2 separate regions of the Homo sapiens genome follow, and region 1 is linked to region 2. Evidence: fine-mapped expression QTL. A gene starts in region 2. The other region holds a variant in brackets. All regions are shown on one strand. Distances are from middle to middle. Region 1 overlaps ROCK2 (Rho associated coiled-coil containing protein kinase 2). Region 2 holds the start of ROCK2 (Rho associated coiled-coil containing protein kinase 2).

Region 1 (5,377 bases), 73 kb after region 2:
TCTCCATGGTTTCAGGTAACCACTGGGGTCTTGGAATGTATTTCCTGAGGATAAGAGGGGACTACCGTGATGTCTTTATCTGTCCTTGGTATCAGGGTAATGCTGGCCTCATAGAATGAGTTAGGAGGTGTTCCTTCCTCTTCAGTTTTCTAGAGAAGTATGAGAATGATTGATGTTATTGAAATATTTGGTAGAACTCACCAGTGAAGCCATTAGGTAAAGAGCTTTTCTATGTCAGGAAAGTTTTGGTTACTGAATCAATCTCTTTACTAATTGTAGGTCTATTTATATTTTCTGGTTTTTTGTGTGAGTTAGTCTTGGTAGATTTTGTGTTTCTAGGAATTTGTCTGTTTTATCTAAGTTATTCTATTTGTTAACATAGAATTGGTCAGAGTACTCTCTTAATCATTTTAATTTTCGTAAAGTGGGTAGTAATGTCCCCACTTTTATTTCTGATTTTAATAATTTGAGCATTCTCTGTTTTTTTAATTAGTCCATCTAGCCAGAGGTTTGTGACTCTTTTGGATTGTTTCAAAGAACCAACTTTTGGTTTCATTGATTTTGTTGTTGTTGTTGTTGTTGTTGTGTTCTCTGTTTTATCTTTGCTCTAATCTTTATTATTTCCTTGCTTCTGATGGCTTTGGGTTTAGTTTGTTTTTCTCTTTCTAGTTTCTTAAATTGTAAAGTTTCGTTTTTAATTTCAGATCATTCTCGTTTTTTTAATGTAAGCATTTATAGCTATAAATTTCTCCCATATACTACTTTTGCTGTATTCCGTTAAGTTTTTTGTTGTGTTGTTTTCATTTGTCTCTGGAGTATTTCCTAATTTCCCTTCTGATTTCTTATATGATTCGTTGGTTATTTGTGTGTTGTTTAATTTCCATGTTTTTGTGGATTTTCTCATTGTAGTTATTTTATCGAAGTCTTTTTTTTTTTTTTTGAGATGGAGTCTTGCTCTGTCACCCAGGTTAGAGTGCAGTGGCGCAACCTCGGCTCACTGCCAGCTCCACCTCCCGGGTTCACGCCATTCTCCTGCCTCAGCCTCCTGTCTTTTATCGATTTCTGACTTCATCCCATTGTGGTTGGAAAATATACTTTGTATGTCTATCTTTTTAAATCTTTTGAGACTTAGTCTGTGGCCTGACATATGATCTGTTTTGGAAAATGTCCCATGTGCACTTGAGAATATTATATATGTTATTATGTGTTCTGTATATATCCCTAAGATCTAGTTAGTTTATTGTGTTAAGTCCTCTGTTTCTTTACTGTATTTCCATACTCCATTCTATTAAGTGATAATAGAGAATGAAAGTCTCCAACTATTATTATAGAGCTGTCTATTTCTCCCTCAGTTCTGTTTTTGCATCATATATTTTGATGGTCTGTTACTAGGTCTATAAATGTTTGTAATTGCTGTGTCTTCTTACTGTGTTGAAACTTTTATTAAGATATAATGTTTTTTTTTGTTTCCTGTAACCTTTATTGATTTAAAGTGTATTTGGTCTGATATTAGTATAGCCACTTCTGCTCTCTTTTGGTTACTATTTCCATCCTTCCACTATCAATCAGTTTGTGTCTTTGGATCTAAAGTGATTATCTTATGGACAATGCATAGATGGATCTTTTTTTTAATTCATTCTGCCAATCTCTGTCTTTTGATTGGAGAGTTTAACTCACTTACATTGAATGTCATTACTGGGAAGAAGAATTTATTTCTGTTATTTTGCTATTTGTTTTCTATATGTTGTAAAGCTTTTTTTTTTTTTTTTTTTTTGACCCTTATTTCCTGCATTTCTCTTGGCTTTTGTGTTCAGTTCATTTTCTTATAGTGGTATGTTTACATTCTTTCTCAATTTGTTTAGTATGTATTCTGTTTTCTTTGTAGATACCATAGGCATTACATTTAACATCCTAAACTTATAAAAATTCAGATGTCAATTTATACCAGCTTAGCTTCAAGAATATACAGTAACTCTTGCTCTTTTTTTTTTTTTTTTTTGAGACAGAGTCTTGCTCTGTCGCCCAGGCTGGAGTGCAGTGGCACCATCTTGGCTCACTGTAACCTCTGTCTCCCGTGTTCAAGTGATTTCCCTGCCTCAGCCTCCCGAGTAGCTGGGGTTACAGGTGCCCATCACCGTGCCTGGCTAATTTTGGTATTTTTAGTGGAGACCATGTTGGCAAGGCTGGTCTCAAACTCCTGACCTCAAATGATCCACCTGCCTCGGCCTCCCAAAGTGCTAGGGTTATAGGCGTGAACCACTGCAGCCGGCCAGCTCTGCTTCTTTAACAGCTCTGCCCTCACCCTTTCCAGTTGCTGTCACAGAATTACCTCCTTATTCATTATGTGCCCCAAACCATAAACTAATCACTTTAAATGCATCAATTTTTTATATAGAACAAAATGGGTTTATGAAACAAAGTTTCAATAATACTAGCTTTTAGATTAATAATTTAAAAATATGTATTGGCCTTTTAAATCATGTAGAAAGCAAAAAGTGCAATTATAATCCATTATTACAGTAATACTGGACTTTATAATTGTGTGTGTATTTACCTTTATTGAGATTTTTATTTCTTCACATGACTTCAACTTACTGTTTAAACAGTGTGTTTTCATTTCACCCTGTAGGACTTCATTGACCATTTCTTGCAGGTCAGGTCTACTGGTAACAAGCTCCCTTAATTTTTGTTTATCTGTTAATGTCTTAACTTTCCTGTCAGTTTAGGGAAAACACAACAACCAAAAAACCCAGTCAAACAATAACAAAGCTTTGTCACTTTCCAAGGCAGTCCTTTCCTCAGATCTGCTCCAAATGAACCTTTCAATTCTACTTTTTTTTTTTTTTTTTGAGATGGAGTCTCGTTCTGTCTCCCAGGCTGGAGTGCAGTGGTGTGATCTCTGCTCACTGCAAGCTCCGCCTGTCGGGTTCACGCCATTCTCCTGCCTCAGCCTCCCGAGTAGCTGGGACTACAGGTGCCCGCCACCACGCCCGGCTAATTTTTTTAGTAGAGACGGGGTTTCACCGTGTTAGCCAGGATGGTCTCGATCTCCTGACCTTGTGATCCGCCCGCCTCTGCCTCCCAAAGTGC[T/C]GGGATTACAGGCGTGAGCCACCGCGCCCAGCCCCGAACCTTTCAGTCCTTTCAACCTCAGATGGCATTGTTTCAAGTTCCCAGAGCACCATACCCCTTGAGTATATCCTATCAATATGCCCTTTAAAACAGGGCAACAGGTTTCTGGTTGCACAAGTAAGGAGCTTGGAAATCACCATCCATCCTAACAACAAATAAAATGCTGAAGAGACTGAAAAACCAACAGTGCTTCCGGGATCCAAAAGACAGGTGAGGACACCAAACAAACCACTGACCCCAAACTAGAGAGACAAACAAATAGCCATGGCTATAAGATCCAGGATTCATAAGCAGAAATTGCCACGAGAACCAGTGCTGAGGTAGGAAAACCTGAGCTGTAACTGACAAATTGCTGGGGGCTAAGTGGTGGTCAAGTCAGACAATTAAAAACTTGCAGGGGACCCAGTTATAGGTGAGCCCCCACACCTTTACAGATTTTATATCCAAGAGCTCAACCAGAGTCTCACAGTGAATATTGGAGAAAAATCTCCTCATGCTTCCAAGAAGATTAAAGGGAAAGGAACATTTTGAAATATGCCACAGCATTTGCTTCTTAACAAGGCCTGCCCTCCAGATGTAACCAGAGCATAATGGAACTTGGGGAAGGTTAATACACAACTCCAGCCCACACTAGCCATCCTATGACTCAGAAGCACATTTAAAGTTCACAGTATAGAGGCATAAGGATTCGCTGAGACCTAATCATAAGACTATAGAACACTGCCCACAAGATTGTAGAACCTAAAACTATAGGAAACATTGCCTCACTCTACACCTTATATTACTAAAGACCTATTTACAGAAGTTCCTTTTACTCAATGCATCATGTCCCGCTATCAAGGAAAAATTACAAAGCATACTAAAAGGCAGGAAAAAAGATTTTGAAGAGACAGTAAGCATTAGAAGCAAACATGGTAGGAACACTAAAATTATCAAACCAGCAATTTAAAAGAACTTTGATTAATATGCTAATGGATAAAATAGCATGCATGAATAGAGTGGTGATGTGAGTAGAGAGATAGAAATCCTAAGGAACAAGTGAAAATAAATTCTAGAGATCAAAAACACTTTTAACAGAAATGAAAAGTGCCTTTGATAGACTTATTGCTAGACTGAACAAGGTTGATAAAATATCTCTAAGTTTCAGGATATATCAATAGGTACACCCAAAACTGAAAGCATGTAGAGGGAAGACTGAAAACATCAGAACAGAATTATCACAGAACCATGGAACCACTAGAAAAGGTGTAAAATATGTGTAATGGGAATACAAGAAGAAGAAAAAAACAACAGAAGAAACATTTGAAATAATAGTGAAAATTTTACCCAAATTAATGTCAGACACCAAACCACAGATCCAGAAAGCCCAAAGAACAGAAAGCAGAATAAATGTCTTAAACGTTAGATTTAGGAATATCATTTTCAAACTATAGAAAACCAAGCATAAGAAAAAGCCTGAAAGCCAAGAGAAGAAAAAGCCTAACAAACCACACTTTACCTATACAGGAACAAAGATAAGAATTTTATCTGACTTCTCCTCAGAAACCATGCAAGCAAAAAGAGTGGAATAAAATTTTTAAAGTATTGAGAATAAAAAAGAAAGCAAAATTGCGAATAAAAAAGAAAGCAAAATTACCAATCTAGAATTCTGCACTTTAGGAAATTATCCTTCAAAAGTGATGGGGTGGCTGGGTGCAGTAGCTCATACGTGTAATCCTGGCACTTTGGGAGGCCAAGGTGGAAGGATTGCTTGAGGCCAGGAGTTTGAGACCGGCCTGGGCAACATAGTGAGACCCCATCTCTACGAGAAAATTAAAAATAATTAGCCATATGTGGTGGCATGTGCCTGTAGTCCCAGCTACTCTGGAGGCTGAAGTGGCAGGATTGCTTGAGCCTGGGAGGTCAAGGCTCCTGTGAGCCATGATCATACCACTTTACTCCAGCCTGGGTGACAGAGCAAGACCCCATCTCTTAATGAAAAAGCACACAAACACAAATGATGGGGAGAGAGAGGATTCTGAAAAGAGAGGGGAGTAACAAGCAAGAGGAATCTCTTTCGTTACCTGGACAACAATCACACCGGCAGAATATGTCTTATATCCGAAGAAACAGGAAAATGTATATAGGCCATTCAAAGAAAACAAAAACAAATCAAAAGAAACCGTCCTTGAAAAAGACCTGATGGCCAATATGGCCGATCCATTCAAAAAAGATTTTTTTTTTTTTTTTGAGATGGAGTCTTGCTCTG
Region 2 (5,377 bases):
GAATGTAAACGGGTAGCGTCTTTTTAAAGGCCAGGTTGAGGCCCGGCTCTGTGACTCACCCCTGTAATCCCAGCACTTTGGGAGGCTGAGGTGAGTGGATCGCTTGAGCTCAGGACTTAGAGAACAGCCTGGGCAACAAGGCAAAATCCTGTCTCTACAAAAAATACAAAAATTAGCCAGGCATGGTGTTGTGTGCTTGCAGTTCCAGCTACTCAGGAGGCTGAAGTGGGAGGACTGCTGGAGCCCTAGAGGTGGAGGTTGCAGTGAGCCAAGATCTCTCGTGCCACTGCACTCCAGCCTGAAGGACAGAATGTAAACCTGCCTCCAATAAATAAATAAATAACAGGTTGGCAGCATCTGTATTTACAGTATGCCTACCCTTTGTTATGACAATTCCACTTTTAGGAATCTATACTATTCAAATATGAGGATACGAGGATGTCAATGGATCATTTTAACAGTGAGAAAATATTAATAATATCTAGCATTGATTGAGGGCCAGCACATTTCTAAGCACTTTATAACAAATATTGTGAGGACCCCGAGACACAGAGGAGTTAGGTAACTTGCTCAGGGTCACATGGCAAGTGTGTGTTTGGGGCAGGATTTTGGCAATTGTTTCTTAACCACTATGCTCTCGAATAGAGAATAATTACAGTGTGGCACATCCAAACTGGGGAGTAGAGGACAGCAGGTAAGCGGAATGAAGCAGATCTCTGCCTATAGACATGGACACGCCTCTAGGACATATTAGTAATGAAGGGAAAAAACCAAGTTGCCAAACACCATGATATGGTATAATTTCATGTCTGTGGGGAAAAGGTAACATGTATCTATAATACATATGTATGAGAATGGCCAAAGGCCTTGAGTGATATAAGAATGTATGTGGAAATATAGTCAGAACAGTAAATTTTAGATTATGTTCCATATATTTCTGGTTCGTTTGAACTTTTACAAGAATGCATTTGTGCATTACTTTTGAAAACAAGAATTGTTGTACTAACCTCCTCCTTACCCTTACCCCATCCTGCAAAAAGGTTTAACTCATATCAACAGATTCATTTTCTCTTCTTCCAGGTAGACAATGGGATAGGTCTTGGGTAAAAATCTTCTGTACCATGGCTTTTTCTGGTCTATATAAATAAGTATATGTAGAACATGCCCAGGATATATATCTTGTTGATCACTACTCTTAAAATAAGGTTTTCATGTTCGGTATTTGGACCATGGCTTCCTGTTATTCCACCAAGCTACATACAAATATACAACCAGTCAAAATTAATTTGGAAACTGAGAACCACAGTGTTTTTTTTTTTTTTTTTTTGAGACAATCTCACTCTGTTGCCCAGGCTGGAGTGCAGCGGTGTGATCACAGCTCACTGCAGCCTTGGCCTCCTGGGCTCAATGGAGGAGGCCTCCAACTCAGCCTCAGGGGGAGCTGGGACTACAGGCACAGGCCACCACGCCCCGCTAGACAGAGTGCTCCTTTTGCCTTGCATATTATTTTGTCATCAGAAAAATAATCCATAATCATAGATTATCTCATTATTTTGCTCCAATGCATAAGTGGGAGTGTCTAGCTCCCTCTGTTCTCCTGGTGGCCTCTGTGGAGGTCTGAATGAGTAGCTCAATACACAGACTTAAAGGACTCTCTGGATGTGAAGTCAGTGTTACTATCTGAAAGGGAAAAGCTGCATTGGATGGATCATCGGGGCCTCTTCCTGCATGAGTCCAGCTAGGGGTGGTTTTAACTAACCTAAAACCAAAGAAGAGGCTCCAACTAATCCAATGGTTTGGATCAAAATGCAACTTTTACAGGGCTGGGGCTTCACCCTATCTTCGGGTTTATCTCTGACATGCCAGGGAGACAGTTCTTAACATTCTTATTACTTAATGGATATCAGATTGTTGCTTTTCGGAGTGGTTTTTCCATTTTTTGAAATTTAATTTGTTCTTAAGTATCTTTACAGAAAAAAATCCCATTTATTTAAGAAGTACTGTATTCTCTGGTTCTTATAGCTGCTCATTTTACATAGTTTTAGTGTGTACAAACGATTTTTTTTGTTTCATTTATTTCTAATATACCTTCTCATGTACTTGCCAAAATTTCATGTTTGACACAGTCTGCATACCTGCCAGGATTCTTGCTGTTAATGTGAAGGCGCCTGTTTGGGTTACTCAATTGTTGGACAACTGGGCCCATTCCCAGGTTTTGGTCATCACGAACATTGTGAATAGCCCTGCTGTTAACATCTTTCTGCAAGTTCTCCCCCTTCTTCGCCCTTTGGATCATTTCCTTGGAAATGTACTTCCTTAAATGGGTTTACTGGGTCAAAGGGGCTCTATGAACGGTTTTATAGCTCTTGGCACATAATTTTCGGATTGCGCCCTGGGCGGATCTAAGCGATGGCACCGGCCGCCGAGAGGGCAGGAATGCGGCGGAACGGTCCCGATAACCACCCCTCTTCCGCCCCCCAAAAGGAGAAGACCCCGCGAAGGCCTGCGGCTGGAAAGCCTTTTTCCGGTGCTCTCCCGTTCTCTTGAAGTGGTTAGTGTCTAAGCCGGGCAGAAACGCTTTCAGGATCCCAGGCCCTCCTGCCCCAGGACTAGGATTCCACCCGCCTCCGCTAATTCGGAATCCCAGACACCCAGGGCCCCCTCTCAGGCTCGCCTCGAAACCCCCGGCCCTGCGGCCCCTCGCGGGCGCCGAGCTCGGTCGCTATTATTTGGGCGCGGGTGAGGCGAGGCCCGCATAGCTGCGCGCTGAGTCAGCGGGGGCCGCGGCGGGGGGCGCGGCCGGGCTCCCCCCCAGCGCACGGTGCGCTGGGCCCGGCGTCTGGGGTTCCGCCTCGGGGCCGCGGGGTAGTCCGCGGGGTCCGGCGGGAGGGGCAGGGGGCGCGCGGAAGGACCCGGCCTGGGTGCGTCTCCCCTCCCCCAGCAGGAGCTCGGCCGTGACCGCGCGCCCGGCTATTCGCCTCAGAGAACCTCGCCAGGGGGAGGAGGCGAGGGCGGGCGAGGAAGGGGCGCAGAGGAGAAAGCGGAGCGGGACAGACGCAGGAAGGGAAAGAAAGGGAGGAAGCGCGGTGCGCGGGGCGGGGCGGGGCGGAGCGCGCGCAGGGCCGGCGGGGACGCGCGCCGGCGGCTGCGGGCGGAGGGGCTTGTGGGTAGCGGCGGCGCGCGGCCGGAGACGGGCGGCCGCGCGGGAGTGTGTGCGCCGGGAGCTGGCTGAGGGACTGCAAGGCGGCCGGCGGCGACCATGGCAGCGGGCCGGCGGCGGCCGTAGTGGCCCAGGCCTGGGCTTCAGCCTCCCGGGGCCCCAGAGGGCGGGGCGGTCCGGGCCGCGGCGGTGGCGGCGCCACTTCCCTGCTCCCGCCCGAGGACTCCTGCGGGCACTCGCTGAGGACCAGCGGACCGGCGGCGCGAATCTGACTGAGGGGCGGGGACGCCGTCTGTTCCCCGCCGCTCCCGGCAGGGCCGGGCCGGGCTGGGCCGGGCTGGGCCGGGCGGGCCCCTGGGAGCAGCCCCCAGGCGGGGGACCGCCTTGGAGACCCGAAGCCGGAGCTAGAGGCAGGCGGTGGGCCCGGGTGGAGTCCCGGCCGGAGCTGGTGGTTCGGGGGCGGTGCTAGGCCCCGAGGCTGCGGGACCTGAGCGCGAGGAGCCTGAGTGCGGGTCCAGCGGTGGCGGCATGAGCCGGCCCCCGCCGACGGGGAAAATGCCCGGCGCCCCCGAGACCGCGCCGGGGGACGGGGCAGGCGCGAGCCGCCAGAGGAAGCTGGAGGCGCTGATCCGAGACCCTCGCTCCCCCATCAACGTGGAGAGCTTGCTGGTAGGTGGCCGGGGCCTGGGAGCTTGCTCGTTGCAGCTCACACCTCAGATCCCCTCTCCGCCCAGCCCTCCGTGCCCGTCCGCCCGTGGGGAGGGGGAGGTCTTGCCCCACCCCGCCCTGCTTCCGGCAGCCGGGGCCGGAGACCAAACGATTCTGTCACCGAGTTCCAAGAGTAGTGACCCGCCTTTGATTCCTCCCTCTACCTCCTGCTGGAGCCAGTGTCATCCCCGGCTGCTCCTTTCTTGCAGCACTGGGAGGAAAACACCCCTCTTCTCCTTCCGCCTGCCCACTCTGGGGAGGTGGGTGGAGGACTGGCCATGCTTCATACACCAGGTTAGCTGATTTGAAAGTGTCATGCTACGTGGGGACTTGGTGCGAGCGAGGGAGAAAGAAACCTGATGCTGTCCCTGTTGCGAGTACTCACTGGGGTACATGACAAAGAGCCGCCCTCACTCTCTCCTTTTAGTCTGAAATCTTGGAACACACAGCTAAAGTTTTGCTGTTTTCACTTGCGTTTGAGCATTCCATACTTGCTATTTAGTGCATTTTAATTGCTGTAAATTTAATTCCCTGAGATTATTGCGCCAGAGCCAAAAAATCAGTCTGAATTGTGGAGTGGAATAAATCTGTCCTCTTCATTGCGTCTCTTTCCTATAACGACCTTTGAAATCCAGATTAATAGCACCGTAAAGGCTGCTAATTGGCTCTTGGTTAAGAAAGGAGCATGTTTTACAAAATAGAAATGCACCGTAGAATGCTGGCTTATTTCTTATTTTTGTTAGGATAGATGATTGTATTTCGCAATTTGAGTAGTGTGCAGTGTAGATGCATTTATGGGAAAAGGGGGTGTGGACTTTTACCCTGGGGAGGGGAAGAAAGGTGAAAACGATACTCTGTGTATTAAATTGACTCTGGAAGACTAGAACTAGGGTGGGAGGTCCTTAGATCCGTTAGACATTCTGTGCTGGAATGCAGATGTTTAGTTCTATTCCCTCCTGGAATAAACCTTACTGTATGATGAGAAAAACTGCCTCCTCCCTTTCCAGGGACGGACGGACTGGCTTTTGGTCAGAGGCGGTTGGTTATCCTTTGAGGTTTCAGGCATCGTTTGCAGAGTGACTCAGTCCTGTTTGGTCAAAATGCAGGAACTGACTTTAGCTATATAGTGTCTTTCTGCACAGTGTACAGAAAGTAATGAATGATGTGCTATATTGTGTCACATGTGTTTGATGTTTTACTGTTTTTCGGGTTAATGTGTTGTTCCTATGTTTTAATGGGAGCAGTCTTTGAAAGTCTTTAATCGGGAGTAAGATTGCTTGCATGGATGGCATAGCTTTTCCTAGGCTAAAGCGGAGACTCTGGGCTGCACTCCCAGCATTTTCACTTTGGTATTTTGCTAGCAAAACTTTGACCTAAGGCCAGAAAGTTTAGTTAAAAATAGTACAGCAAATCTCAAGTATTCATCAGGTTCATGCTAAATCCTAGATGGAAACGTTTTGCAATTCACTTTGATATCTTAGATCTTTAATGATATTAATCATAATTATT

Evidence for each region. PIP is the estimated chance that this variant, and not a neighbour inherited with it, causes the effect. A credible set is the group of variants that fine-mapping cannot tell apart.
Region 1: its variant is the best candidate, but not a certain one, in a credible set for the expression of ROCK2 in neutrophils (BLUEPRINT, PIP 0.72).

The regions. Positions count from the first base shown.
Region 1 is chr2:11,269,492-11,274,868 of GRCh38, reverse strand. All of the region lies in intron 3 of ROCK2 (Rho associated coiled-coil containing protein kinase 2), which reads left to right. Among named protein-coding and RNA genes, the nearest start is that of ROCK2, 72 kb to the left of the region's middle. The variant T/C (reference allele first, on the strand shown) is at 3,091.
Region 2 is chr2:11,342,448-11,347,824 of GRCh38, reverse strand. It overlaps ROCK2 (Rho associated coiled-coil containing protein kinase 2), which reads left to right and starts at 3,189. Exons shown (of 33, transcript NM_004850.5): 1 at 3,189-3,829. The coding sequence starts at 3,689. It overlaps LOC124907733 (a long non-coding RNA gene), which reads right to left and starts at 2,313. Exons shown (of 2, transcript XR_007086216.1): 1 at 2,136-2,313. RefSeq lists silencers at 2,705-2,864, 2,935-3,004, 3,145-3,874.